Regions from separate parts of the Homo sapiens genome. Here region 2 is linked to region 1. The links come from fine-mapping of genetic effects on plasma protein levels. Region 1 holds a variant in brackets. A gene starts in the other region. All regions are shown on their forward strands.

Region 1 (13,718 bases):
CTGTCTCTGAGTCTTCCTTTGACAACATTTTCAACACATACACTGCATGCGAAGATGTTTGATAAAGAAGAAATCTTGCTTTCAGAAATAACAATCAGATTTGATGTAACCCTCAGGTTAGACAGTTTTTCCTTTGATTTATTTAAGCAACATCTTTTTAGAATCTTTTTATCGTTACTTCCAATCAAAAAGCAGAGACCACAGCCTATAATTCTGGAGTATTTTCAGCCTGGCACATTTTGCTAGGCAACTTCCAATATGCTTTCTCTTCTTTTTTGGTAACAGAAGTTTATGCCAGGTTAATTACTTCTCAGAAGGTTACATTGCTCAGTGTCCCACCCTGAAGATGGATGTGGCTATTTGATATACTTATAGGCAACAGAAGGTAATGGAAAATGTGAACAGTTTTGGTGAAACTTCCCTAAAAGTTATCTAGCTCCTGTTCTTTACTGTTTTCTTCTTTGCCCATTACCATTTCCTGTTAGCTGGAATAGCATCATACCTGGTGCTGGAGTAATAGTTTTGATTTATGAGATGAATTTGGAAAAGATAACCATGCACAACTGAGACAAAATAGAACTTGGCTCTCTGAGGATATTGTAGAACAGTAAACCAGCTGTGGATATACCCTCCCTGAATTCCATGAGAAAGAATGAATTGAATTAATTTCATTAATTTCTATCTTGTATAAATCACTGTTTCTTTGTTGTTGTTTGTTTGTTTGTTTGTTTTTTGAAACACTTTGTCTCCCAGGCTGGAGTGCACTGGCACATTCTGGGCTCACTGCAACCTCCACCACCTGGGTTCAAGCCATTCTCCTGCCTCAGCCTTCCGAGTAGCTGGAATTACAGGCATGCTCCACTACACCTGGTTAATTTTTGTATTTTTAGTAGAGACAGGGTTTCACTATGTTGGCCAGGCTGGACTAGAACTCCTGACCTCAAGTGACTCGCCCACCTCGGCCTCCCAAAGTGCTGGGATTACAGGCATGAGCCACTGTGCCCAGCCCATTTCAGGCATTTTATGAGTTGCATTTTGTCCCTCCGAAAATGATCTGGTCAAGGTCTTACCCCACTACCTCAGGATGTGCTCTTCTTTGGAGATGGGGTCTTTACTGAAGTAACCAAGTTAATGTGAGGTCGTTAGTGTAAGCCCCAATCCAAAAAGACTGGTTCTTTATAGAAGGAGAATTTGGACACAGGTGCACACACTGGGAGAATGCCAGGTAAACATGGAAACAGCTCTCTACAAGCCAAGAAGAAAGGCCTGAGACAGAGCCTTCCCACACAGCCCTCAAAAGGAACCACCTTGACACCTCAATCTTGGATTTCTAGCCTCAAGAACTCTGATATAATACATCTCTGTAGTTTAAGCAGCCCAGTCCATACTTTCTTATGGCAGCCCTAGAAAAGTAATACAGGGCCTGAGTATCAATAAGCATTTTTCAGGAATCATTCTAAGTGCTTCAAGTTGAGAAGATTTAACACATGAAATGGAGGTTAGAAAACTGTCAGAATGCCTGGGAAAGTAAACAGAAAGGAAAATGGCTGCTGGTTTCAGGAAGTCAAGAATCGCAGGAACACATGGCTGGCTGATGATCTCAGCGACCTGCGGACCAACGCAGGTGATCTGCAGGAACCTCCTTGGAAGCGGCAGCTTCCCGCACTCCATATCCACCGGCTGTGGAAGCTCACACATCTGCCTGCTCCTGATGGAAGCATAGAGGCTGCCACTCCTCTTCCTGATTCTGATGCCTGAGTGGGTGCCTCCTGGTGGTGCAGTCTAAGTTAAAATCCTGCTGGCAACCGGAAAATGTAGGTTTCAGGGTTTCAGCCCCTGTAAATACAAGGGAGAATATAGAAGTGGGCAGAAGTATTCCTGTGATGGAAATAGGAAATCCACCGCAGCCTCCGTTACTCATAAATACAGCTAATGAAACTTAGTAAACATTTTACATCTACGAAAAACTCTGTGTTCCCTTTCTCACTATGTGACCCTTTGGCAGTATTTACAAAGTATAACTGTGAAGTCGGTTTCAAAAGTATGCTTCATATCCTCCAGTTCCATGGGCAGGCTTTGTAATCAGCCAAACGGGATCAAACCCAGATCCTTAATTTACCAGCTGCATGACTTGGGAGACTCACTTAAGCTAGGTGTACCACCGTATCTGTAAAATGGGACTACTAACAGTATATATCTTCAATAATTGTGAGGACTGAATGACATGAAATATGTGGAATAATTTTCAGTGTGGTCCATCCTAAGTGCTCCATAAATGTTGGATCTTTGTGTTATTGCTGTGATTTACTTCATGCCTTTGGTGTGAATTTAGTTGTTTATGTATCAGCCTGTCCGCTGAGACTGTTGAGCTCTCCTAAGGTCGGGAGTCTTACGTTTTATATTTTATCCCAGTGAGTGGTAGGCAGTGTATTATTCTCAAGACACTGAGGTGGTTCTTATCTAATATCTGTAATTCTAAAAGTTTTCAAGGTTTTTAAATTAATTCAACCAACCATTCTTTCAACAATTTTGAGGTTAAAACTTCTAACATATCCTTGATCACCTCAATTCTGGTATTTCTATATTCCTGTACAAAAAGAAATGTACAGACAGTGTGGTGAAACTTTACAAAAGATTAAGTGTTGGGATGGGGAAGCGGGGACATAAGTAATAAGAGGGCTTAAATCTGCCTGGAAAAGGTGTTTATTCATTATGTCCTCATATGATATGTTAAGGAGTTCAACCTTACTGGGAGGCAATGGGAATTAAATAAGGGATTTATTGTGAATGATAAAGTGATATTATTACTTTTACTTTTTTAAATTATACTTTAAGTTTTAGGGTACATGTGCACAACGTGCAGGTTTGTTACATAGGTATACATTTACTTTTAAGATTACATTGGAATCACTGCCATAGATGGTTTGTCGGAGTGAGAGAGGAAAAGAAAATTAGTTAAGAGGGCTTGAACTTTGGCAGTCATGGAGAGAGAGGGGAGAAGCGAATGGGCTGTGCAGATGCTGAGCAGGCAGAGCTGACAGGAAGGATGGCCCTTGTGCAGGTGCGGCAGACCCGGTGACTCAGAAAGAAGTGTGAAAGGGAGGCGTGTAACTCAGAGGGAGAGAGCAGCCTCGGTGTGGTTGACCTTCGTGGGGGCAGCTTCAATCCTGCAGGAGCACAAGGCTGATTGCTGGAGATCAATAAATGCGGAAGATAAGATAGTGGGGGTGTTGAGCAGATTTCACTTCATTCAGTAAGTTTACCTGCAAAAGGAAGAAGAGAGAAAAGGCAGCAGTAGCATGAAAATGTGTCGATTTTGTCAATTGGAGCATTCTGTATATTCTGTTCAATTGATGGCGCTTTATTTTACTGCTTAACTATAAAAGCCATTGACTGCATGATTAAGTACATAATGCCAATAAAAATGACCTTCCATCCTGTTGTTTTTTAATCACCAAATGACTCCCTGGCTGTCAGTAATAATGAATTCATACACACCAACAATAACAAAATGTTTATTTAGGACAGGACCTCACGTGAGGCCAGCCTTCCTAAGGAAGTGAACAGTTACCTGCTTTAAGGAACTGTTTGCAAATGGACCTCCTGTCTTATCTCTCACAGACCAAAAACTCCTTTTCAAACAAAAAACCTGGGCATATTTTGCCAGCAACAAATCCGGGAAAATATCTTAGTAGGAACTGGGAAACACTGCATTAGAATCTGAACCCTTCAGTAGCTCGAAGTCACCATGCTTTCTTTTTTTTCTTTATAGTACAATTTGTTTTTCAGAAGAGTTTTACATTTACAGAAAAAAAGAGAAAATAATATAGTTTTTATATACTCTGTACCATATGTTACAAATACTAAAGCAATGTTGATATATTATTATGAACCATATTTCTTTTTTTTATTATTATACTTTAAGTTCTAGGGTACATGTGCACAACGTGCAGGTTTGTTACATAGGTGTACACATGCCATGTTGGTGTGCTGCACCCATCAACTCGTCATTTACTTTAGGTATTTCTCCTAATGCTATCCCTCCCCCAGTCCCCCATCCCCCGACAGGCCCCGGTGTGTGATGTTCCCCGCCCTGTGTCCAAGTGTTCTCATTGTTCAGTTCCCAACTATGAGTGAGAACATGCAGTGTTTGGTTTTCTGTCCTTGTGATAGTTTGCTCAGAATGATGGATTATGAACCATATTTCATCTTTTACTCGGGTTTCCTTGGTTTTTACCTGTTATCCTTTTTCTGTTCCAGGATCCCATTCAGGATACCACATGGCATCTGGGTGTCTGTCCCTTTAGGCTCCTTGTGGCTGTGCCAGTTTCTCAGATGTTCCTTGCTCCTTGTGTGCAATGACTTTGATAGTTTTGAGGAGTACTGCTCAGGGATTTTGCAGGATGCCTGCTATTGGGATTTGTCTGATGTTTTTCTCATGAGAAGAGTGGGATGAGGAGTTACTGGGGGGAAGACCACAGAGTAAAAGTCGCATTGTTATCACATCCTATGCAGTGGAGATATTATCAACATGATTTTTAACCCTTAATGTTGGCCTTGAGCACCAGGAAGGAAGTCACTAAGTGCAGCCCACACCAAGGAATGCGAAGTTAGGCTTCACCTCTTTGCAGGGGTTGGGGGCGGGTATCTACATAAATTATGGGAAATTTTACTGTATGAGAGATTTGTCTCTTCTCTCATATTTATTAATTTATTCAACCATTTATATCTTTTGAATCCGTGGATGTTTATATTTGGGTTATAATCCGACATTACTTAATGCTCAAAGTGTTTCAGCTTTGGCCTTTGTTGATACTTTCAGCTGGCTCCTGTACTCTTCTGACATGTCCTATTACCCTGACACTTTCTTTTCTTTTCTTTTTTAACACTTTGTTACTTTCTGCTCATAGTTTATATGGGTGTATATGTCTCTCTCTCTCTCTCTCTCTCTCTCTCTCTGTGTGTGTGTGTGTGTGTGTGTGTGTGTGGTTAAGGGGAAACTGTCTAGGCTTGTACTTGGGGCTCTTTAATACCCTTCCGTATTTTTTGTCCATCTGATATCTCTCACACCGAGAATATGTTTCTGTCTATCATTCATCTCTCATAGTTTCCACTTTATGAACAAGTTGATGTGTTACTTGGTGCATAAGTATGAATACCTTCTATATATTAATGTGAAATATTTAAAATGATTAAATGGTGTTTAATTTGTCCCACTGAATGTTTTTACTCAAATTCTCTTCTGGGTGCTGTCAGGACCACCATCCCGATTTTCTCATTGATTCTATTTGCCTTGTGCATTTTGTAGACCCTTTAGTCTTTCTGAGTCACTTTGTTTTGGGTGTGTCTCTTGCGTGTAGCGTGTGGTTGGCTCTTGCCTTGTGAGCCGAGTTGAAAATGTGGATATGGTGGATATGATTGGTTTCAGCTCTGACATATTACTATTGTTGAACTTGCTGTGTTTTCTATTATGTCATTTTTCTGAAGGCATAGTATTAGTGTGGTTTTATTTGTTTTCGCTGGTGACCTATACAGTGTTTTGGAGGATGTGTAAAGTGATAATAGTTAAGTGATTGTCAGCCACCAAGAAATTCCCCACCACTATTTCTTTTTAACATTTATCATTCTTTTCTTGTTCTCAAAAAGCTATAAAAAGGCAAACGCCCTTAGGATGTCCAGAATGGCTATGATTTGTCATGTCCTTTTGGCAAACGTATTAATAAGGCTTTTAATAAAGAAATGAAAATGTATCTGACATTTTCAAAAAGCCAGTCAAGATTCAGAGTGTTATTTATACCTTAGCAGTCAATTCCCTCAATATTCATATAAAAATTTAATGAAATTACAATTAAAATCCAGCAGAGTGTACCCAATTTAGAACTGAATAAAATGATCTTAAAATGCATATGAAAATTCAAAACTTTGGGAATAGCCATGACAATGCTTTTTAAAACATATTTAACAGATGTCAGCAAATACTGCAAAGCCACTGGAGTCAACTTAATACGGCATTGGGATAGATAAATAGATTAGTTTAACCAAGTAGTACACCAAATAGTTTTAACCAAATAGAAGCAAGGACCAAAGCCCAGTATACATGAGATAAAATATTAGACAAAAAACTGTATTCTAGTTCAGTGGCAAAAGGTAGCTTAATTTTTTTTTTTTTAGACGGAGTCTCTGTCACCTAGGCTGGAGTGAAGTGGTGAGATCTCAGCTCACTGCAACCTCCACCTCCTGGGTTCAAGCAATTCTCCTGCCCCAGCCTCCCGAATAGATGGGATTACAGGCATGTGCCACCACGACTGGCTAATTTTTTTGTATTTTTAGTAGAGTCGGGGTTTCACCATGTTGGCCAGGCTGGTCTCGAACTCCTGACCTAAAGTGATCCACCTGCCTCGGCCTCCCAAAATGCTGGGAATACAGGCATGAGCCACCGCACCCGGCAAGGGTAGCTTATTTAAAAAGTGGTGCTGGCACAATGACTTTCTACATAAAGGGGAATATTTAAAATCTCAGGCAGGAGTGAAGCATCCCATCAGTGGTCCCACGTGTCTGGGTGGTTGGCAAGAACAGAGTGCTAGGGGATAGGCTGGTGAGTGAGGTGGCTTTTTGACTGTGAACATCTTTGCATGTCACATAAGGAGTGTAAATTCAACCTTATGGGGAAAACGGGGAGCCACTTTTTTTCTATTTGGCTGAAGGATGACAATTGTCTATATGTTTTAGGAAAAAGTTGGCAGAAATACAAAGACTTTGTTGAAGGGGAGAAAAGTAAAAGTGCTGAAGGTAGCTAGGACGAGAGAGCTTGGGGAAGCAAGGCATGGAAAGACAGAGGGTTCTAAGAACCTGTGAAGAGCTCTGATTCTTGAGGAGGCAAAACTTGAGGTCAGGCATGGCCTGCTTGATCATCTGCCCAGAGCCACTCATGCCCACCATGTGCGTTGCAGATATTAATACGTTCCCGGCCTCATGTTCTTTCCTCTCTTGCTGTACAGTTATAGTAGGCAAAATGTGCTGTTTGTTTAGCTATCTGTCGTTTTTCTCTCACACCATCGTCCTCCTCTTTCTCAGCTCCTGGCACCAGTGTTCATCATGTGGACCTTCCATCCTCTTTATGGTAATCTGGTTCACGGTCATCAGCTCTGCAGTTTAATACTCACTCAAGGGAAACTGGAGATCTGTAGCTCAAAATGCAACCCAGAGTGTTCCCAAGTTGATGGAGTAGTCAACAGGGAGCGGCACCAGGGGAGGGGCTGCGTTTCCGGGTGTGCCGTGTCCCTCAGCTGCTGCTTGCCTAATGCAGCAGGTGGAGCTCACTTGGGCCACAGCAGACGTACCGCTGTTCGACAAGGATGACTGGGGAGTAAATCTTCTTAAAAACACACGCTAGATTAGCTGTAAAGTCTAATGAAACTGTGTAATGCAACATGTCTTTATTGAAACACAAAACATAGATAAGCCTGAATGCAAGAGTGAATATAAATGTCTTCACGTTACATGAGGATTTCTGTTTTACGTTTTACAAGCTCTCCATTGACTTGGAAGGTCCAGGAAGCAGTGCCTTGCTTTTTTTTTTTTTTTTCCTGAGGCTGTCTGTTATTATGGTTTCTATTGTTATGATTGTATATTATTCTTACATTAGTTTATGTGGTAAATATTTAGTGCCAGGTATTCCAAGAGGAATATTTATTCTCATTTTATTCTTCATTCTCAAAATCATTTTATTTTCAGAACAATCCTTATTTTATCAACTAGGGCTCTGCGATTTCAGCAAGATTAAATAATTTTCCCAAAGTCACACAACTAGGAAGTGAAAAATATGTAATTTAACTCAAGTGTATATGATTCAGAGGAACTGCAGCCTCCCCACACTGTATTTCTTCCTGAATAGGGCCAAACAACTAATTTGAATAGAGAGAAGTGAAGGATGTTTTGGGATATTTTGGCAATGTATTTTG[C/T]CTTTACTACAGTTTGTCTTTGTGCCTATAATCTTTTCTTTCTTTTCTTTTCTTTTCTTTTCTTTTCTTTTTCTTTTTTTTTTCTGAGACAGAGTCTTGCTCCGTCACTCAGGCTGGAGTGCAGTGGCGCGATTTCGGCTCACTGCAGCCTCTACCTCCGGAGTTCAAGCAATTCTCCTGCCTCAGCCTCCCGAGTAGCTGGGATTACAGGCATGCCCCACCATGCCCAGCTGATTTTTGTATTTTTAGTAGGGATGGGGTTTCACCATGTTGGGCAGGCTGGTCTCAAACTCCTGACCTCAGGTGATCCACCTGCCACAGCTTCCCAAAGTACTGGGATTACAGGTATGAGCCACTGTGCCCAGCCTCTGTGCCTATAATCTTAATTTAATTGGATAATGCAACCCATCATTTTAATGTGAGCACTGAATTTAAAGAGGATGAAGCTGGTTTTTTATCGTTTCCTTATACTCTTACTGACCAGGTTCAGAATCTGATAGTCACTAGATGTTATTTAGGACAAGTTATATAAGTTTTCTAAAGCTCAGTGTACTCATGTTCCAGATATTAAGTAAAAATAGATGTAAACATATCTAGAGAATAATAACCAGCAAATAAGCCATATCTCCTTCCTGTCTATCACACTATCCCCCTCACATCTCTAGTGCTTTAGACCCATAAAAGTTTACGCTTTAAATTTTAAATAAAACTCCTGTAGTGAGGATAGTGTTTAACCCAAAGGATACATATCTCATAGTGTAATTTTACTATTATGTTAAACAAAGAAAAAAATAATTTTGTGTTTTAGGATCTTCTTGGAATACTCTCAAATCTCAGTAAATTCATGGCTGTTTCTTTAAAATGCGCTCTGAAAATATAAGTTTTGGCTAGCATTCATGGGCAAAGTTAGGCATGAAAAAAAAAGGGAAGAAGTGTTTGGAATGGAAAGAACAAGACCAGCACACAAAGAAGTTCAGACAATTAAAAATTTTGAAATGAAAACATACAAACTTCATGAGAAAATAATGGAAAATAAATCACTAAATAACCATTTTGATAGAAAGCTTTGAATGTTGGGAATACTTAACATTGCCATTTTTATTCTCATCATGTTAATAATATTTTTTTAATCCATTTGGTTTGCTATAAATCCAAGCATCACTATGAATTATCTAAGCTGGAGAAGCTAAAGTTGGAGCAAAAATAAAGAATGACCTTCAATACTAAAGAGCAGAAGCTGGCTGCTTTCACTGTTAAAGATGACAGAACAAGAAGAGAGTCACAGAGAATGTGGTGTTCAAGTTCTATTTTCCCTGAAAGTAACAGATGTGGATTGTGACTGTTTGCTGAGGGAAATTGTGCAATTTTTTCTCTAGAGAGTTTGGTATGGCTTTGCCAGAAGACAATGTATTACCCGACTATCACAATTCATCCCCTTGCCTGCGGGAAATATAATTCTTTATTTGAGAGCTCGAATTATCTTCTATTTTGTTTCAAAGAATCTGGAATTCTATGACCACCATAGAAAAAAGAATGTCATTCATTTCTGGAATTTGTTACACTGGAAATATAACTCAAAGTCTTTGCCAAGAGTTCCTTTTTCTGAGCTAATCCTCTGATGGCCATTACATTTAAAGTCAAAATACAGCCTTTAACTTCTCACTGGAGACTCTCAGAGGTCTCTCAGCTGAGGAAGGCACTTATGTCCAAAGTGATATACACAAATGGTCAAAACTATGTAATGTCAATGAAGACAAATTGTTGGAAGTACCTGAAATATTTTGAAACTTGATGTACAGAAAATAGGGTAGTAAAAAATGTCCTGTCATTGAACTAGGTAATTGAAGAATCACTGAGTGGAAGCCTGCACAGAAAGAAAGACAGGAAGATGAATTTAGCTTTCCTCTTCATCAATATAATATTGACAGAATAACTAACGGTATAGCTCTTGTATGAAAAATTGTAAGTAAGGCTGACAGATATACTGGTGAGGTCTGTTCACTTGCTTTGTTCTAATGGGTTTATTTTGGGGACCCATCAGCTTCTATTTAAAATATTAAATAGAAAATTGACACACAGTAGTTTGTTCTAAAAGCTTTACATATCTCACTCCATCAATGATCATTTTTTTTGAGTACATGCAAGACAAATGTCAGACTCACAATATTCAAAGATGGGGAAGATGTGGGGCCTCTTTTCAATAAACTGTCAGTCTTCAAGGTTGCTGGAGTCCATCTCTGCAGGGGGAAACTGGGTAGATATTAGTTAAATATTAATCTACCTCTTTACCGTGCATGGCCAGCAACTAGGGCGTAATTCCTGCAGTACTGTTTGGCTCCCCGACACATTTACATTATTTTTATTTTTATTTTTACCTTTTCTACAGATGAAACCAGAGAAGGGGTCATGCAGATGGTAATAGCCATCCAAGGAGGGCGATGACCCCTTGTTAGTATTTAACCCATCTTCTGAACAACAGGCAGTGTGGTACTCACGAGATCACCAAACATTTTCTTCAATCTGAGGAATGGTTGCAGCCTAGGGCTCTCAGTAGTGAGGAACTGTATTGTGCTTTTTCATTTTATAAGAATGCTATGTTAGCCATCAGAGCTGTCACCGTACATTCACATGTCCAATATCCATGTCGGAGAAGCTGGTATTTCTGTTTCTGACCAACAAATGATATTTAAGGGAACTTCATTTATAAGAACATTGATCCATGCACTACTTTGCTGCATATGCTTTTGATATATAAACAGATCATGACTCAGACATGCAAAGGGGCATTTAGTTTATGTCTCCATAGGCTAAGTTAGCTGATCCATGCATTGATTTCAATATGAAAATCAACTTTGTTTCTTTGTTCATTTATTTAATTGAATTTACTTCCTTGATATGCTCTTTTAGTGTTGCATGTGCAAAACCATAATCTTATGCCTTGCTGCCCAGATCGCAATCTTTGAAGACTCATCCTTGAAGCACTGTGCAGAATTGTGAAGCAGATTTTAATTGGTGGGCTATTATGTTCTGGGTCCTGTTCTAGTTTTGGGAGATGCAGTAAGGAACAAAACATACAAAAATCTCTGCTCAGGGAGCTTACATTTCAATGGAAGGGATAGATAATAAACAAAACACACAGCACACGCAATAGTGGCAAGCACTTAGGAGGAAATGTTTAAAATGGAGCAGGCATATGAAACGTCAGAGCTGGGGAGAGGAGTGGGTGTTGACATTGAGGTAGCATGGCCAGAGAAAACATCACACAGAGGGTGACTTTTGGGTGAAAACTGAAGGAAACGAGGGAGCTATGCATGCAGCTAAAAGGAATGAGGGCAGAAAGGAAGCAGGAAGTAGAAGAGCATTGGGGTGTGGGTGGCCGGCATGTCTGGAGAGCTAGAGAGAGGCCAGTGCACCTGGAGTGCAGAAAACGAGGAGGAGGCTGAAAAGTAAAGAGGTCAGGCAATAGGGAGCCTTGTAGAGCCTGGCTTTTACTCTGACATGGGAGTCTCTTGTGGAGTTTTTCACATAGGAGGGATAAGGTATGATGTATGCTTTAACAGGTTCATCCTGACTGCTGTGTTGAGAATATACTACAGAGAAGCCATGGTAGAATCGGGCAGAAAGTTAGAGCAATACCTAAGGGGAGAGCTCATGGTGGCTTTGATAAAGGAGTTGACCATGAAGATAATAAGAAAACACAGGATGATGTGCTGCTGTAAGGAATAAGGAGGTGAGAGGAAGAGAAGACTCAGGAAAATAGAGTTGCTGTTACTTGAGTTTGGGAAGATTGTGAGATGAGATCATGTGGGTAGGGATATGTAAATTTGCTTTAGGGCGTAAGTTTTTGGTGCTAGTATGATTCCAAATGTGGGGATCAGTGGACAGGTGGATATATATTTTCTGGAGTTTGGGGAAAAATCTGAGCTTCAGATATAAATATGAAACTTGTCAACAAACAGGTAATAATTAAAGATATGATACTGAGTGACTAGAGAATTAGTAATAATTTTTTTTTTTAAAGCCCCGTGGGAACAGGCAGAGGGGCAGGACTGGAGCAGAGGCTTGGTCAACGTTTGAGGTTCCTATTAGGTCTGTGGTGTTTACTAGATGTCAGAGGAATTCCAGTCCCACTTTTGGGAGCAGCTTCCATTCAATGCTCACAATGAATCACCTGACTTCGTTAAAGTTCAAACTTGAGTCTAAATATTAAAGAACCATAAAATCCAAGTCTTTAGTGTGTAAAGAGGAGAAGGGTTGAAGTAGGCAAAAATGAGGTGTTTAGTCATTAGTAATTCTGCTGATACAAATATTGTTATAAAATTAAGTATATATTTATGTATATTAAAATATTAAATTAATATTGAATATATATTTAAAATTTTAAAATTATAGGCATTGACAGAATTTTGGCTAAATTTCTCAAAACAGTCTCAGAATAAGCAGAAGTTATCATTCTTTGGCCCTGAAGAAAGTCAACAAGGAAAATGCCTTGAGCATCCCCAAGAAGCTATTGACGTGACCTTTGCTCTTGACCTGTCTGCTTTTGCTTTGACTGGCCCACTTTCACCTCTCAGTAGCCATTGCTTTGATTATGCTTTGCCTTCAGGATCATACTGGTAAAGCATGTTTCATCTTCTGTTACAATTCTTCAAAGAAATTCTTCAGGATCTTGATCCCCCTTGTTTAAAATTTCCATTGAAAGCTCTGTTCTTGTCTGCCGCTGATCTGGATGCAAAAATTTTGGTCATTAGGTGGAAAATTTTCTCAACTTTAATTTTTCAGAAAGAATTGTGAAAGCTGAACCAGGTGAGATGTCGGTGGCATTGGCTTGTGTTTCTGCTGCTAATCGTCAGTCCTCTTCAATTTGGGTAAAACAATAACATTTTTTCTTTGCAAATTGATGTGAATGGCCTGCCCATGCAGGCTTCGTCTTCAATATCATCTTGTCCCTTATTAAAATGAGTTGTCCATGTATAAACTGCTGATTTCTTTGGGACATTGTCCCCATAAACTTTTCATAAAGCATCAGTGATAGCACCATTTTTCCAGAAGCTTCCTCATAAATTTGACATTTGTCCTTGCTTCAATTTGAGCAGAAGTTATGTTCCTCTGATAGAGGATCTTTTCAAAGTGCTTTCTTCTTAGTACTTCAAACTAGATCCTGTTCAGACATATAACAAAGTAGTGCAAGTTTTATTTTAGTACAAAAAAGTTTTGAAATCCATGCATATTTTTTTCATCATACACATTTTTCATGAGCCTTTTGAACACTTTTTGTGTATGTATATATATTTTTTAGACATATATGTATTAAACTAAAATTGACTATTCATCAGTATTATACCTGGCATCTTGAAATTATCAATAATCAATGATTGTAAGGACATACATTTGATTCTTAAAATTATTTACCATTGTAGCATATTACTTAGAATTATTGTTAATATCTTATATCTTAAGCATTTTTCTTATAGATCTCAAAATATTATTAACATCTTAAAATGCATTATCAATATTCATATCAAATAAGGTATTTTGGCTGTAACTCGACGTGAGCATCTCCTTATGTATTTCATATATTGAGATTTTGTAGTTGAAATATAATTATACACTGTATTTATTATTGCAAAAGTCAAATGCGATAATTTGTGATGATGGTAATTTATGTATAAAATAATTAGGAACTTTCATGTAACTAACAAATACACATAGAGATTGAAAAGTGATAGCAAAAGTAACTGCAAGTGCATTAGGTAG
Region 2 (15,759 bases), not on the chromosome of region 1:
CCTCCCTTCCTCCCTTCTCCTTTCTTTTCTTCCTTTCTTTTGCAGTGGCGCGATCTCGGCTCATTGCAACCTCCGCCTCTCAGGTTCAAGCTATTCTTATGCCTCAGCCTCCAGAGTAGCTGGGACTACAGGCATGTGCCACCACGCCCGGCTAATTTTTGTATTTTTAGTAGAGATGGGGGTTTGCCGTGTAGCCCAAGCTGGTCTCAAACTCCTGGGCTCAAGCCATCTGCCCGCCTCCATCTCTCAAAGTGCTGGGATTACAGGTGTGAGACACCACAGCAGCTTGCTTGCTTGCTTGCTTTTTCTTTTGGAATTACAAACAGTAGTGCTTGAATATTTTTGCATATGTCTCCTGGGGCACAGGTACAAGCACTCTTAGTGCATTTACCTACTGATGAAAATGATGGATTTTGCTGGTTTAATTTTTTATAAGGAGGTGATATGAATATTGCTTTTATAATTAAATTTCAATTTTAAAAAAGAAGAGAAAGCAGTTGGGATGGGCTCATAGAGTGAAAGGGCAGGGAACGGTCTATGAGACCAGAAGAAGACAGGCAGGAAGGGCGGCTGAGCCATGCCTGCAGGCTGAGCATGGAAGGTACTGTGAGTACACAGTCAGATCGGCACAGGAAATGAGCACCTTTGAGGCGTCCACTCTGTAGGGGCTCGTCAACAGTAGACTGGGGTTCAGGAGACCTGGGTTCTCTCCCAGCTCTGCCACACAGGGAAAGTCATTTCACCTCTGCACCCCACGGTTCTGATAGCTGTAGAGTGAGAGGGTAAAGCCGAAGGTTGGAATCATTTTCCAGCCCTGCTGGCTTGAAATCCTAAGCTGGCTGGAGCAGTAAGATGGGGGCTCCCCATAGGCCCACAGGACCTTCTACCTAGAAGCCAGGAGGAGGGGACAGGAGCCCAGATAGGAAAGAACTCTGTCTCTCCAAGACCCAAAAAATGACTAAAAGTAATGACTGGGCCTCACCCCAGTAAGTCAGTAGTGGTGGTGCGGTGGTTAACAGCCAGCTCTCGGAGTGGGAAGCCCTTGATCTATGGCGTTTGCTGATGTATGTGGTTGTAAGTATTCCTACTATGGCCAGCTGGCCAATTTCAAGCTACCAACGAGTAACCTCACAAAATTCCTGAAAATGTAAGGATCGGGCTTTGGCTAGGCAGTACTAGCAGGCTCCAGCACGGCCCTAGGAAGGAAGCTGCCCTAAGAGCTCAGGCTCAGACACCGCACCACGGACTAGCAGGGGAAACAAAGGTCTTAGGTCCCTCTCAGGGCTCACAGTCATGAGGCTCAGAAACAGCTGGGGAAAGTGGGGCGTGCCTCCCTCCCCGCCACAGGGAGGATCACCAGACTGGCTCCATGAGCCATTTCCCTCATCTGGTGAGCAAGGGAAGTCACTCAGAAGAGCAAGAATGGCCCAGCCACCCAGCACGGTGGCTCACACCTGTAATCCCAGCATTTTAGGAGGCAAAGGTGGGCAGATCACTTGAGCTCAAGAGTTCGAGACCAGCCTGGGGAACATGGTGAAACTCCATCTCTACAAAAAATACAAAAATTAGCTGGGCTTGCAGGGCACGGTGGCTCACGCTTGTAATCCCAGCACTTTGGGAGGCCAAGGCTGGCGGATCACCTGACATCGGGAGTTTGAGACCAGCCTGAACAACATGGAGAAACCCTGTCTCTACTAAAAATACAAAATTAGCTGGGCGTGGTGGCGCATGCCTGTAATCCTAGCTACTCTGGAGGCTGAGGCGGGAGAATCGCTTGAACCCAGGAGGGAGAGGTTGCAGTGAGCAGAGATCGCGCCATTGCACTCCAGCCTAGGCAGCAAGAGCGGAACTCCATCTCAAAAAAAATAAATTAATTAATTATCTGGGCTTGGTGGCGCATGCCTATAGTCACAGATATTTTGGGGGGCTGAAGCAGGAGGATTGCTTGAGTTCAGAAGGTCGAGGCTACAGTGAGCCGAGATGGTGCCACTGCACTCCAGCCTGGGTGACAGAGCAAGACCCTGTTTCAAAAAAAAAAAAAAAAAGCGAGTAGAAAATGCCAGGGGCAGTTGGGCACAGTGGCTTACGCCTCTAATCCTAGCACTTTGGGAGGCCAAGGCGGGTGGATCACCTGAGGTCAGGAGTTCAGACCAGCCTGGTCAACATGGTGAAACCCCGTCTCTACTAAGAATACAAAAATTAGCCAGGAGTGGTAGCGCATGCCTGTGATCCCAGCTACTTGGGAGGCTGAGACAGGAGAATTGCTTGAACCTGGGAGGTGGAGGTTGCAGTGAGCCAAGATCTTGCCACTGCACTCCAGCCTCGGTGACAGAGTGAGACTCCATCTCAAAAAAAGAAAGAAAAAAAATGCCAGGGGCCCAGGAGCCTACTGTGAGAGGAAACGTCCCGTCGCCTTGTGAAATCATGATTCTGCGTGATGAAGAACCGAGTATGAATAATACATACAGAGCAGACATATCGCCTATGCACAGCTTGTTCAATTTAGTGAGTCGTTCTGTCTCTTTCACACTCCTTTGGTTTCGTTCCCAGGTTAACTAGCTGTTCCCTCAACCCCATTTCTTGGGACTTGCAGCCTCAAATACCAAGGAAGAGAGAGGAGGAATGAATATTTATTGAGTACCCAAACAAGACAAGACCAGACATTTCATTTCTATTGTTACCCTTAATTGTCCCAACATGCTGCAAAGTGCACGACACTATCCTCAAGCAGATGAGGACTCAGTCAAGAGGTTGTGGGACATGCTGGACATGATGCGGGTAGTAGCCGGCAGAGAGGCATTTGGACCACCAACCTGTCTGGTTGTGAAAGTCAAGCTCTCTCCACCTATCCCAGGATCCTCCTGTCTCAGTGGGTTTGGGCCCTGGAACCACCCTTCAGTTCCAGGTCAAGACTGCTCCCTTCATAGCGACATCTTTCCCTCACTGTTTCTCCCCTTGCCTGGTATCTGAGAAATTCCTTTTATAGGTCTTGCCCTTCCCTGGCTACATAGACTGAGAGTCAGAAAACCTCAGTAGTCAGCACTCAAACCTTACACCTAACAATTTACATAATATCTGATTTCAGAAATTAGCTTTACCTCAGATCAAAATTAATCCTATAAATCACAGATCACGTAAAATCACAAGTGTGACAAGTCCCAAAAAAGAAAGTGTGACCAGGCTCACGCCTTGTAATCCCAGCACTTCGGGAGGCAAAGGTGGGAGGATTGCTTGAGCCCAGGAATTTAAGGCCAGCCTGGGCTACATAGCAAGACTTTGTCTCTACAAAAAGATAACAAATAAAAAAAAAAATTAGCCAGGTGTGGTCCCAGCTACTCGAGAGGCTGAGGCAAGAGGATTGCTTGAGCCCAGGAGATTGAGGCTGTATTGAGCTGTGTTGCCACTGCACTCCAACCTAGGCAACAGAGGGAGACCCTGTCTCAAACAAACAAACAAACAAAAAAAGAGGCTGGGCATGGTGGCTCACGCCTATAATCCCAGCACTTTGGGAGGCCGAGGCAGGCGGATCACGAGGTCAGGAGATTGAGACCATCCTGATGAACACGGTGAAACCCTGTCTCTACTAAAAATACAAAAATATTAGCCGGGCGTGGTGGCGGGCGCCTGTAGTCCCATCTACTTGGGAGGCTGAGGCGAGAGAATGGCCTGAACCCAGGAGGCGGAGCTTGCAGTGAGCCGAGATCGCGCCACTGCACTCCAGCCTGGGTGACAGAGCGAGACTCCGTCTCAAAAAAAAAACAACAACAACAACAAAAACATAACTATAGGTCTGTGCTCGGCCAGGTATGGGGGTAAAATTTATATTACCCACGTGGTTGGGAAACCTCCTTTATCCCCAAGAAAAGAACATGAAAACTGGTCTCAAGCCAGTGACATCCCTGGGGCGTCTGACAAAAGCAACTGCAAAAACACTGAAGGGACATGTACTCAACCCAACCACCAAGGTGGCCCACAGAAAAAGCCTGTTGAATATGCACTTTCTTTCCCTCTCTCTCTCTCTTTAATGGAGATGGGGTCACACTCCGTCACCGGCACTGGAGTACAGTGGGGTCTCACTGTGTTGCCCAGGCTGGTCTCAAACTCCTGGCCTCAAGCCATCCTCCTGCCTCAGCCTCCCCAAGTGCTGAGATTATGGTGTGAGCCACTGTGATGGGCTTGAAGATGCACTTTTGATTCAAAATTAGAAAACACACCTGAAACAGTCTGACCTAGAGAAACTTTTTCATCTAAGTCAGTCATAAAAATCAAATATTTGTGCTTAGACTCAGATCAATCTATATAAAGTGTTGAGGAAAGTTTTTTAATAACAAAACACATTAAATCATATTGCTCTTACTAAATATATTACTGTTAATGTTTTATTATATTGTGGAAAATTTTGTTACCTATTAATATTTTAATGAGAGCAACTAGATCTTTTATGTTGCAAATAAGTAAATGTGATATCTTTAAAAATTGTTTTTCCTATCCTTATCTCATTGTTTTTATTTTACTTTTATTATTTTGTTGTTGTTGCCCACACTGGTCTCAAACTCCTGAGCTCATCGATCCTCCCACCTCAGCTTCCCAAAGTGCTGGGATTACAGGCATGAGCCACTGCATCTAGCCAATCTCATCCTTTTTATGTTTCTGTATGTGACTATGTAATTCGATCTCATCCTTTAGAACTTTAGAATGTCTACATATACTTACATAGAACCTATTTGAGTATATAATATATGATTAATTTATTTAAAATATTGTGGGGAGTCGAGCCAGCGTCGCCGCAGTGATGTCGTTGGAGAGCAAGCAATTCCTGACGGAGCTGACCAGACTCTACCAGAAGTGCCGGACGTTGGGCAGCGTCTATATCACCTTGAAGAAGTATGATGGTCGAACCAAACCCATTCCAAAGAAAGGTTCTGTGGAGGGCTTTGAGCCCTCAGACAACAAGTGTCTGTTAAGAGCTATCGATGGGAAAAAGAAGATGAGCACTGTGGTGAACTCCAAGGAAGTGAGTAAGTTTCAGATGGCTTATTCAAACCTACTGAGAGCTAACATGGACGGGCTGAGAAGAGGGACAAAAAGAGCAAAAGGAAAAAGACCAAAGCAGCAGCACAGTAAAGGGCACAAATTCCCTGCTTTCACCAATTAACCACTGAATTGCTATTTTTTCCTTTGGTTTTTACTTTTGGCCACATAGCTAGGTTTCTGGTTCCCCCACAGTAGGTGTTTTCACATAAGATTAGGGTCCTCTTGGAAAGAATAGTTGCCATGTTTACAGGGTAGTTGTGGTAAGAATCTAGTTTATTTTACATGTGACTAATTGGTCTGTGCTGCATGGTTATATACTCCTGGATTATAGATTAGAAGTCTCCGAAGTCACCTCTGTGAAAAGCAAGCTATCATTAAACATGTCTGTTTATCAATCAATCAATAAATAAAATATTGTTTATTTGGGGATACATGCTGAAAATCATTTTATTGATGGGGTACAAAATAAAAAAAAAAAGCAGAGACTACTGAATTAGAAATATACATTTTTTCAGGCACAGATGGAACATTTACAACCACATACTAGGCCATAGAGCAAATCTCAAACAAATGCCAGAGGATTCATATGTATTCATTTTCTACAGCTGCTACAACAAATTACCACAAACTTAGTGGTTGAAAACAACCCAAATGTATTATGTTACAGCTCTACAGGTCAGAAGTCTAAAACAGGCCTCACCAGGCTACAATCAGTGATGGCAGGTACAGCTGCCCCTGGAGGCTGAAGGGTCAAATCCATCTCCTTGCCCCTTCCAGCTTCTAGAAGCCGCCCACATACTGAGGCTCATGGCCTTCTTCTTCCAACTTCAAAGTCAGCAACATCTTGATCCTTCTCATGCAGCTGCCTCTCTGGCGCTGTCTCCTCTGCCTCTTTGCCACTTACAAGGATGCTTGTGATTACACTGGGTCTACCTGGATAATGCAGAATAATCACCCATTGCAAGGCCAACCTTGATTCCATCTGCAGCCTTAACTCCCCTTTGCCATATTAACATGCAGTTCAGGGGCGCAGATGTCCTCGGGGGACCAACGTGCTGCCTGCCATGCTACACAGACAGAGTGCTCGGGCCACAATAAATTTAAAATTAAAATAATAAACAACAAAAAGTTAAGCCCCACAGATCTGGAAAATTTGTAATGCATTTATAAATGAAATATAGGTAAAAATAAATAATAACGGGAAAAGCAAATCAACAATAATGAAAAAAACAATATAGCAAAGCTGATGAGATGTAGCTAAAGTAGATCTTCAAGGGAAGTTTATAGCCTTAAATGCATATATTAGAAAATAAGAAATTTCTAAATTAATTAAGCATCCAATACATTAGAAAAAGAATGGCAAAGTATGCCGGGTGCAGTGGCTCACATCTGTAATCCCAGCACTTTGAGAGGCCAAGGTAGGTGGATCACTTGAGCTCAAGAGTTCGAGACAAGCCTGACCAACATGGTGAAACCACGTCTCTACTAACAATACAAAAATTAGCCAGGTGTGGTGGCGCACACCTGTAATCCCAGCTACTAAGGAGGCTGAGGCAGGAGAATCACTTGACCTCAGGAGGAGGAGGTTGCAGTGAGCCAAGATCATGCCACTGCACTCCAGCCTGGGCAACAGAGCAAGACAGCCTAAAAAAAATAATAATAATAACAGTGAAACAGCTACACACAAGCAAATCAAGTTCTACCAGGCTTTCAAGGAACAGATTATCCCTATTGTATATAATCTGTATATAAAAAAATAAAAAATAGCACTTAAAAAACAAGTGGTCAAAGCAAGGAAAATAGAATCGTGTCACAGAAACCAAGGGAAGTAATAATTCTCATGTAGGTGGAGAGCTGCCAGATCCCACATATCTCTGTTAAACTTTGCTTCCTGGATGAGGCACTCCCTACCCCTTAAATCCCCCTATTAGGGGTATAGACACCTATATTGCACCCCAACTCTCTCCTTCATAGCAATAATGACCATTACTAACTAATTTTAATTTTGTTTTGTTTTTTGGGTTTTGTGAGATGAGGTCTTGCTCTATCTCCCAGGCTTGAGTGCACTGGCATGATCATGGCTCACTGCAACCTCGACCCCCTGGGCTCAAGTGATCCTCCCACCTCAGCCTTCCGAGTGGCTGGGACCACAGGCACGTGCCACCACACCCAGTTAATTTATTTTTATTATGTGTAGAGACGGGGTGTCACTCTGTTGCCCAGGCTGGTCTTAAACTCCTAGGCTCAAGCAATCCTTCCGCCTCGGCCTCCCAACGTGACTGGGATTCCAGGTGTGAGCCGCCTCACCTGGCCAATTTTACATTTGTCTTTGAGATTATATGATCGATGTCTGACTCTCACACTGGTGTGTCAACTCCGTCAGGGCAGAAACCACATATTTGTCTGTTTGTTTTTCATCTTTGTGCCCCATTACTTGGCTGGTTCCTAACACAAAATGAATGTGCAAAAAACGCTTGTCAAATGAATGAGGAGGTCTAAGGGGCCTTGAGCCCTCTGACGTTTCCATTTTATAATTGTGGACAGAGCCGCTACAGCACAAAGCTGAGCTGGACCATCCAATGTTTAGCCAGTGCCTTACGTGCTAGGAGACACTGGGAGCTGTGCTGGGCTTCTGAGGAGTGGGCAGAGGCTGGAAATACCCATAGTTGGTCAGTCTCCTGTGTCACCCAGACTGGGGAGGTGCAGAAATGAAAATTACAGAGCTGCGAGGACCCAGAACCTCATTAATGAGCTTAACTCACTGTCCTGACCAGGTGGCCTCTCAAAGCCTTGCTGGGAAGGAGGCTTTAAGGTGGTGGGGGCAGCAGTGCTGGTGGTGGTCATCGAAGAAAGTGGGAGTCGGGGAGGAAGCAATGGGGAGCAGGGGACAAAGAGGGCCAGACAAACTCAGAGCTTCAGGTGATGAGACTCAGGAAGCCTAAGTCAGGAACAGTGATTGCGGACATCTTTGTCCCATAACAGAACTTCCTCCTAAGGAAAGGTCTTGCAGAGACTGGTCCTGCTGAGCGCTTTAACAGGTTATTGATTCATAAAAATTGGAGAAAAAAGACAAAGTCTGCCACACCTAACAGCCTTCTGTTTAGAGCTGGTTTAGAGGAAACTTTAAGCAAGTCTTGTGTCCAACAATTTGGGCCTGAGGCAGGGTACAGGTAAGGGAACAGACAGGAGACACGGAGGCAAGAACAAGACTTTAGCTGAAAGAGAAATCAGAGCCAGAGGCAGCCACAAGAACACCCAACCTACTGGAACTCATGCAGGTGGACAGCCTGCCCAGGACTTGCCCTGAGTGGGAAGCAAAGAGCATCTTATCTAGATTTTAAGGAGCAGGGTGCCCCTGGCTGACATCTAGGCTACAGTCACTGGGCCAGGTGGAGGGTTGGTCAGGCCCTCTCAAAAGTCATGAGAGGCCAGGCACAGTGGCTCACGCTTGTAATCCCAACACTTTGGGAGGCCGAGGAGGGCAGATCACTTGAGGCCAGGAGTTTGAGACCAGCCTGGCCAACATAGTGAAACCCCGTCTCTACTAAAAATACAAAAAATTAGCCGGGTATGGTGGCCGGTGCCTATAATCCCAGCTACTTGGGAGGCTGATGTATAAGAATCGCTTGAACCTGGGAGGCAAAGGTTGCAGTGAGCTGAGATCATGCCACTGCACTCCAGCCTGGGCAACAGTGAGAGACCCTTTCTCAAAAAAAAAAAAAAAAAAAAGAACCAAAAAAAGTCATGAGAGTCCTCAGAGTTCTCAAGAAGGGCTGCTGTGGGCCTGTTTCTGGAAAGGAAAGAAAAGCAGGGAGCTGTTGAGAAAATACCATATGTTTTTATGCCCCAGCCAGGCATGGGGGAGAGGCTGACCCCAAAAGAGAAAGTGGTTGTGTGAGATTTCAAGGAAGATGTCAGCGGGCTGCATCCCAGGGCCTCTAGACAAAAGGAAGGGCCCAGCCAGGCATGGTGGCTCGTGCCTGTAATCCCAGCACTTTGGGAGGCCGAGGCAGGCAGATCACCTGAGGCTAGGTGTTCTGGTCCAGCCTGGCCAACATGACAAAACCCCATCTCTACTAAAAATACAAAAAATAAGCTGGGCGCGGTGGCTCTCCCCTGTAATCCCAGCCAAGGTGGGCGGATCAACTTGAGGCCAGCCTGACCAACGTGGCAAAACTCCATCTCTACTAAAAATACAAAAATTAGCTGAGCGTGGTGGCACGCACCTGTCATCCCAGTTACTCAGGAGGCTGAGGCGTGAGAATGGCTTGAGCCTGGGAGACAGAGGTTGCAGTGAGCTGAGATTGCATCATTGCACTCTAGCCTGGGTGACAGAGTGAAATGGAGGGAGGAAAAAAAAAAAAAAGGAAGGTCCCGTCCAGGGAGCCAGCCTAGGATGGGGAAGGCTCACCAGAAGTGGATGCAAAGAGTGCTGGAGATGAGCTCATTCTATTTGCCTAGGAAAGAAAAACGTCCAGAAACCTGGCCTTCCTCCTCTTGGCCGAGGCCCTCCAGGAAAGCCAGGCAGACCCTGCTCCTGCTCTGACCCCCTGGAGAAGTGATATGTAGAAAAGAGGAGATGGGCTTTGGCCCAGAGGACAGCAGCGTTAGGCTAGTGAGCAGTTCCCAGTCGGTTCAAGGTTGCTAGGCTCAGCGAACTGCAAGTCCCTGTTCGACAAGTTTCTTCCTAAAGGTCCCCAGTTCCTCATGATTCTTCTGAGGGTCTCATCCACCCTCCCAGGGCCTGCAGTCAGCTAGCCACCCCACTGCCCCATGCCTGCAGTGAACACATTTACCACAACCTGGAAATGGCTGGTGACAGAAAAGTCCTCACGGCCACAACACTCTCTGCGGTGGGAATTCAGGTGCCTTGCCTGATGGTGACAAAGCTGGTTTTGCATAAACAGCTCTCTGAATCACACCCAAATGTGGCTTCTGACTTGAGTGGACCCCCATGAAGAGCTGCAGAGGGGGCTGGGAAAAGACAAGAGAATGGAGAAAATGAGGAGAAAGGAAACTACAGAGTGAGATAGAGAACAGATCTGACAGGTGTGACCACAGCAGTGTGACATTTATGAACAGTGTGGAAACAACGGCAAAGCCCCTAAATTAAAAACTTCCTGGGGAAATAAGCCACTCCACATATCGGTTGCTGAGGAAAGAGTGGAGGAGGCTGTTGACCCGTGTGTGTCCCCATGACTCAAAGAGGGAAAAGTCTAGCTGTTTCCAATATCCCGAAATCAGTCTTGCTGGGAGAACTGGGAAAATAAAAAAGAGATGACCCCCGTAGGAAGCTACCTTTAATCCCAAGTGCCCAAGGCTAGGAGAGAAGATGCTCCAGGCGATCCAGGACACCAGTGACTGACACAGCCAGAGGTGGGAAAGGGGAGGATAAAGATGGCACAAAAGTGAGGAGTGAGCAAGGGTCTGAGAGGGAAGGCCATGTGGGCAGTAGGTGGCACCCACATCAGAGACTGACATGAGGATTAAAGGAGAGCATAGGTGATCGGTCAGAGTGTGACAGAAGAGAGGCAGCTCTACACCCCTTGCTTGCAATTCTGAGCATTCTGTAGCAAACTCGTTTGGCCATCAAACCAGACCTCAATTGAGACAAGGCTATTTAAGCTTCCTCCCAGTTGGTGTAAATATTCAATAGTTTTGCTGCAGAAATGTTGCGTTTGATTATGAGACTACCCCAACTCCCCAAGGGTGTTTTGTGGTGCTGGTTTCTGTATAAACCTGAAAAATTCTGAATTCCAAAACTTATCTGACCCCCAAAGTTTCAGATAAGAGCTTGTGGACCTGTGCTCAATTCTGGTTCTCCTTCCTTCTTTCAACTGTTGTCTGTGAAAGGAGGGATGCAGGTATGGGAGACAGGAGTCCTGCGAATTCGTCTGTAAACTGTGGACGGGGGGGTGGGTGGGGGGGGGTAACGTGGGCACCTTTGTGCACAAGTGCATGAATAGGAGGGGTGAGCAACTGTGTGTCCATCACCTTTTTGTCAAAGAAGCAGGAGTCAGTGGGCTACGTGCTTCATGAGCAGGAGAGGCGGAAACTAAGGAAGGCTCATGTGTTGGAGGAAGCATGTTTGAAGAGCAGCAGGTCTCACAGAGTTTGCTCTTTAATACTCTCCCCAGCACACGGAAGGGGAAGGGGGTGGAGGTTGCTGCTATGAGAGAGAAAAAAAAAACAGCCACAATAGAGATTCTGCCTTCAAAGGTTGGCTTGCCACCTGAAGCAGCCACTGCCCAGGGGGTGCAAAGAAGAGACAGCAGCGCCCAGCTTGGAGGTGCTAACTCCAGAGGCCAGCATCAGCAACTGGGCACAGAAAGGAGCCGCCTGGGCAGGGACCATGGCACGGCCACATCCCTGGTGGCTGTGCGTTCTGGGGACCCTGGTGGGGCTCTCAGCTACTCCAGCCCCCAAGAGCTGCCCAGAGAGGCACTACTGGGCTCAGGGAAAGCTGTGCTGCCAGATGTGTGAGCCAGGTAAGAGGGGGCCTTGGTAAGGGCCAGGTGAGTGGCGAAAGAGAGAGGACTGGGGTTAATACAGTAAATAGGCGCAGGGTGAGACTGAGCTCAAGCAAGGAGGGAAATCCTGCAGCTGTGGGGAGGCACCACCTTGAAGAGGGCAGAGAACCAGCCCTTCTCAGGCCTTGATCCCTTACCCTCTCCTCCCAGGAACATTCCTCGTGAAGGACTGTGACCAGCATAGAAAGGCTGCTCAGTGTGATCCTTGCATACCGGGGGTCTCCTTCTCTCCTGACCACCACACCCGGCCCCACTGTGAGAGCTGTCGGCACTGTAACTCTGGTGAGGTGGGCAAGGGTGTGTAGGTGGGGACGATGGACAAGCATCTGGGGGAGCAAGGCTGGTGACGGGTTTGGGGGTGCAAGGAGGATGACGGGGCCAAAGCTTTGGCCTTCTTCAAGGCTCACAGCAAGTGGAGCCAATGCTGGGAAATGCGGCACCCTAGGTGGGGCATGAATTAACGTGGGCAGACATCTAGTATTCCAGGAAAGGGATAAATAGAATTTGAGGGATTGGTGAGAACGGGTCTATGGATAGGATCAAGACAATAAAATGAGAGAAGTGGCTCTATGACCCCAGATTTCGGGCAAGCAACCCCCAACCAATAAACTGACTGTGTTCCCAGAGTGCACATGTGCAGGTTGGCCATTGGGAATTTGGAATACATCTTTCTAAGGAAATAACAAAGCAACCCAATAGGTAACAACCTTTTTTTGCACAAAAGCCAATTTGAGAAAATGAGTATGTATGTAGCCTGTGTTTTTATTTTATAGTTCCAAAAAAAAAGGTTTTTTTTAAACTAAGAAGTATAATATCTGCAGTTGTGCTTATGAATGCTGTTATTATTTCTCCATCTTCGCTACAATTTCAGAAACTACGGCCAGTATACACTAGAATAGCAGGCTTTAAAGTGGCCCCTTTGAACAAATGTTCTCTAGCAAGACACTTTTTAGAACCAGGTAACTGTAACTATTAAACTACCTACTTGCAAAACGTGTTTGGTGTCACTGGGTCTCTTGGTACTGGGTTTTGTTTTGTTTAGTTTAGAGACAAGGTCTAGCTCTGTCACCCAGGCTGGAGTGCAGTGGTGCAATCATAGCTCCCCACAGCCTTGAACTCCTGGGCTCAAGCAATCTTCTAGTCTCAGCCTCTGAAAGTGCCAGGATTACAGGTGTGAGCTGTAGTGCCTGGTCCCGTAAAAACAAAAACAAAAACCAACACCAGATGTGGTGGCTCATGCCTATAATCCCAGCACTTGGGAGGCCAAGGCAGAAGGGTATTTGCATATTTTGTAGAGACTTGAGCCCAGGAGCTTGAGACCAGCTGGGCAACATAGTGAGACCTTGTCTCTAAAAAAATTGGCTGGTCATGGTAGTGCACCTGCAGTCCCAGCTACTTGGGAGGCTGAGATGGGAAGATCACTTGAGCCCAAGAGGTCCCCAAGAGGTCCAGGCTGCTCACATCACTGCACTCCAGCCTGGGTAACAGAGCAAAACCCTTTTTCACACACACACACACACACACACAAAAAGCCAGAGCAGTGGCTCACACTTGTAATCCCAGCACTTTAGGAGGCCAAGGCAGGCGGATCCCTTGAGCCCAGGAGTTTAAGAACACCCTGGGCAACATGGCAAAACCCTGTCTCTACTAAAAATACAAAAAGTTAGCCAGGCGTGGTGGCACGAACCTGTAGTCCCAGCTACTCAGAAGGCTGAAGTGAGAAGATCACTTGAGTCCAGGAAGTGGAGGCTGCAGTGAGCCGTGACTGTACCACTGCACTCCAGCTTGGGAGACAGAGTGAGCAGAGTGAGACCCTGTTTCCAAAAAAAAAAAGAAAACAAAAGCTTTTCCATTGCAAATCAACCAAAAAGGAACGTCTTTAATACACAAGAAATATTCTTCAGTCTACTTAACTTAAAAATGTAACTGTAATAGATGCTTTTCTCTTGACAGCGGCCCCGGCAGGGTTGGAACTTTTCCTAGTCAAAACCCCCCTACTCACTCTGCAGACCCTTCCTGAAGGTCTTCGCCCCATACTGAGCCCATCTTCAGTCCCTTCACTTGTTCCAAACTAGCCCAATCCATGACCCTTCTCTGGGAGCTCAGCCAATAGATCCCAAAGTACCACAGCAGCACCTGGCTGCAGAAGGACCCCCGGGAAATGCAGTCAGGGGTGAGAAGATGGGTGGGCTGAATGAGCTCGGCCCTCTCTGGGCCTTAGTGCTGGCATCTATGAGATGAGGACATGCCTGAAGTCAGCCTGGAATTTTGAGCCCAGGTTATACCTGGTAAATAGAACTCCCAGGTCTCCGGATACTCACCACTAAAACAATAGCACCTCATTGTTTTTGTTTTGTTTTGTTTTGTTTTTTAATTATACTTTAAGTTCTAGGGTACATGTACACAATGTGCAGGTTTGTTACATAGGTATACATGTGCCATGTTGGTGTGCTGCACCCATTAACTCATCATTTACATTAGGTATATCTCCTAATGCTATCCCTCCTCCCTCCCCACACCCCACGACAGGCCCCAGTGTGTGATGTTCCCCTTCCTGTGTCCAAGTGTTCTCATTGTTCAATTCCCACCTACGAGTGAGAACACATTGTTTTTAACCCTCCCCAGCAGCTTCTTTAACCCCTCCATTTCCCTTTTGGCGGAGACCCTTGTCATCACTCCTCTCTACCACCAGTGCTCTCCCCTCCTGCACTGTCCCAGGCTTCCTCATTCTTCCCTTGCAGGTCCTTATCCAACATGGCTCACAATTCCTGGGAAGCCACAAGGAAACCAAATTCTAGTAGCAACTCAGAGTCAGCATTCATTAGCAGGTCACAGGGCCATAAGGATGCCAAGAAGGAATTTGTCCCTCTCCTTGTCCTGACAAAAGGCATAAGTAGAAGAAAATTGTTAGGTTTGGTTATGACCTTTGACATTCTCTCTTTGACATCCTCCCTTTCTGCACCCCTCTTCCACCTGTCAGGGCACCTAGGGCTCCCCGGGTCCCCACAAGTGTCTGCCCTAAGGCCCACCAGGCTTTCTTGCAGCCTGTCCCACATCTGGGTGTCACTGCCTTCCTCTGAATCACCCTCCTCTCAAACCAGCCGCCAGCGAGCCCAGCCCAGCCCAGCTAGTGCCCTACCACACCCGCCCCCAGGATAATTAACACCCAGCCACCCAGCATCGGACCTCTACACTTGAGCAAAATGTATATTTTAAAGGCAAATTCTCACGCCTGTAATCCCAGCACTTTGGGAGGCCAAGGCGGGCGGATCACGAGGTCAGGAGATTGAGACCATCCTGGCTAACACGGTGAAACCCCGTCTCTACTAAAAATACAAAAAATTAGCCAGGTGTGGTGGCACACACCTGTAATCCCAGCTACTAGGGAGGCTGAGGCAGGAGAATCACTTGAACTCAGGAGGCGGAGGTTGCACTGAGCCGAGATCGTGCCACTGCACTCCAACCTGGGCGACAAAGCAAGACTCTGTCAAAAAACAAACAAACAAAATAAAGGCTAAGTAACTGTAATCAAGTAACTATTTATTATTTATTTATTTTAGTGTATCCACAGGTTGTGCAGCCATCAACACTATCTAATTCTATAACATTTTCGTTACCCCAGAGAAACTTGTACCCCTTAGCAATGACTCCCCATTTCTTCCCCCCAACCAACCCCAGCCCCAGCCCCAGCCCCTGGGAATCCCTAATATACTTTGTTTTGTTTTTTGTTGGTGGTGTTTGAGACAGGATCTCACTCTGTCACCCAGGCTGGAGCGCAGTATCATGATCTCAGCTCACTGTAACCTCCACCTCCCGGGCTCAAGCGATCCTCCCACCTCAGCCTCCCCAGTAGCTTGGGCCTACAGGTGTGCACCACCACACCCAGCTAATTTTTGTATTTTTTGTAGAGACGGGGTTTCACCATGTTGGCCAGGCTGGTCTCAAACTCCTGAGCTCAAGCAATCCACCCACCTCAACCTCCCAAAGTGCTGGGATTACAGGCGTAAGCCACTGCACCTGGCTATTTTCTTTCTTTCTTTTCTTTTTTTTTTTTTTTTGAGACGGAGTTTCACTCTGTTGCCCAGGCTGGAGTGCAGTGGCGTGATCTCGGCTCACTGCAACTTCCACCTCCCGGGTTCAAGCAATTCCCTGCCTCACCCGGCTATTTTATATTTGTTGATCTGCTGCTGGTTAT

Direction of the effects. Alleles are on the strand shown, and positions count from the first base shown. The strength of an association depends on the size of the effect and on how common the allele is.
In carriers of allele C in region 1, the plasma level of the protein whose gene starts at base 11,246 in region 2 tends to be lower than with T alone (weak association).

Evidence for each region. A credible set is the group of variants that fine-mapping cannot tell apart. PIP is the chance, under the fine-mapping model, that this variant and not a neighbour inherited with it causes the effect. The UK Biobank Pharma Proteomics Project read protein levels with antibody pairs (Olink). The fine-mapping took linkage between variants from a reference panel, not from the people measured, so its PIPs are less certain.
Region 2: it holds the start of CD27, and the variant in region 1 is the best candidate, but not a certain one, in a credible set for the plasma level of the CD27 protein (UK Biobank, PIP 0.54).

What each region holds. Positions count from the first base shown.
Region 1 is chr13:108,343,496-108,357,213 of GRCh38, forward strand. All of the region lies in intron 2 of LOC105370355 (a long non-coding RNA gene), which reads left to right. Among named protein-coding and RNA genes, the nearest start is that of TNFSF13B, 81 kb to the left of the region's middle. The variant C/T (reference allele first, on the strand shown) is at 7,962.
Region 2 is chr12:6,433,710-6,449,468 of GRCh38, forward strand. It overlaps CD27 (CD27 molecule), which reads left to right and starts at 11,246. Exons shown (of 6, transcript NM_001242.5): 1 at 11,246-11,522; 2 at 11,715-11,846. The coding sequence starts at 11,387. CD27-AS1 (CD27 antisense RNA 1) reads right to left here. Exons shown (of 6, transcript NR_015382.2): 2 at 14,931-15,028; 3 at 14,328-14,441; 4 at 13,252-13,378; 5 at 9,837-10,008; 6 at 5,292-5,967. It also overlaps the pseudogene SRP14P1. RefSeq lists enhancers at 10,338-10,407, 10,428-10,477, 11,382-11,883, 11,428-11,487, 11,518-11,697 and 2 more and silencers at 9,028-9,167, 9,268-9,347.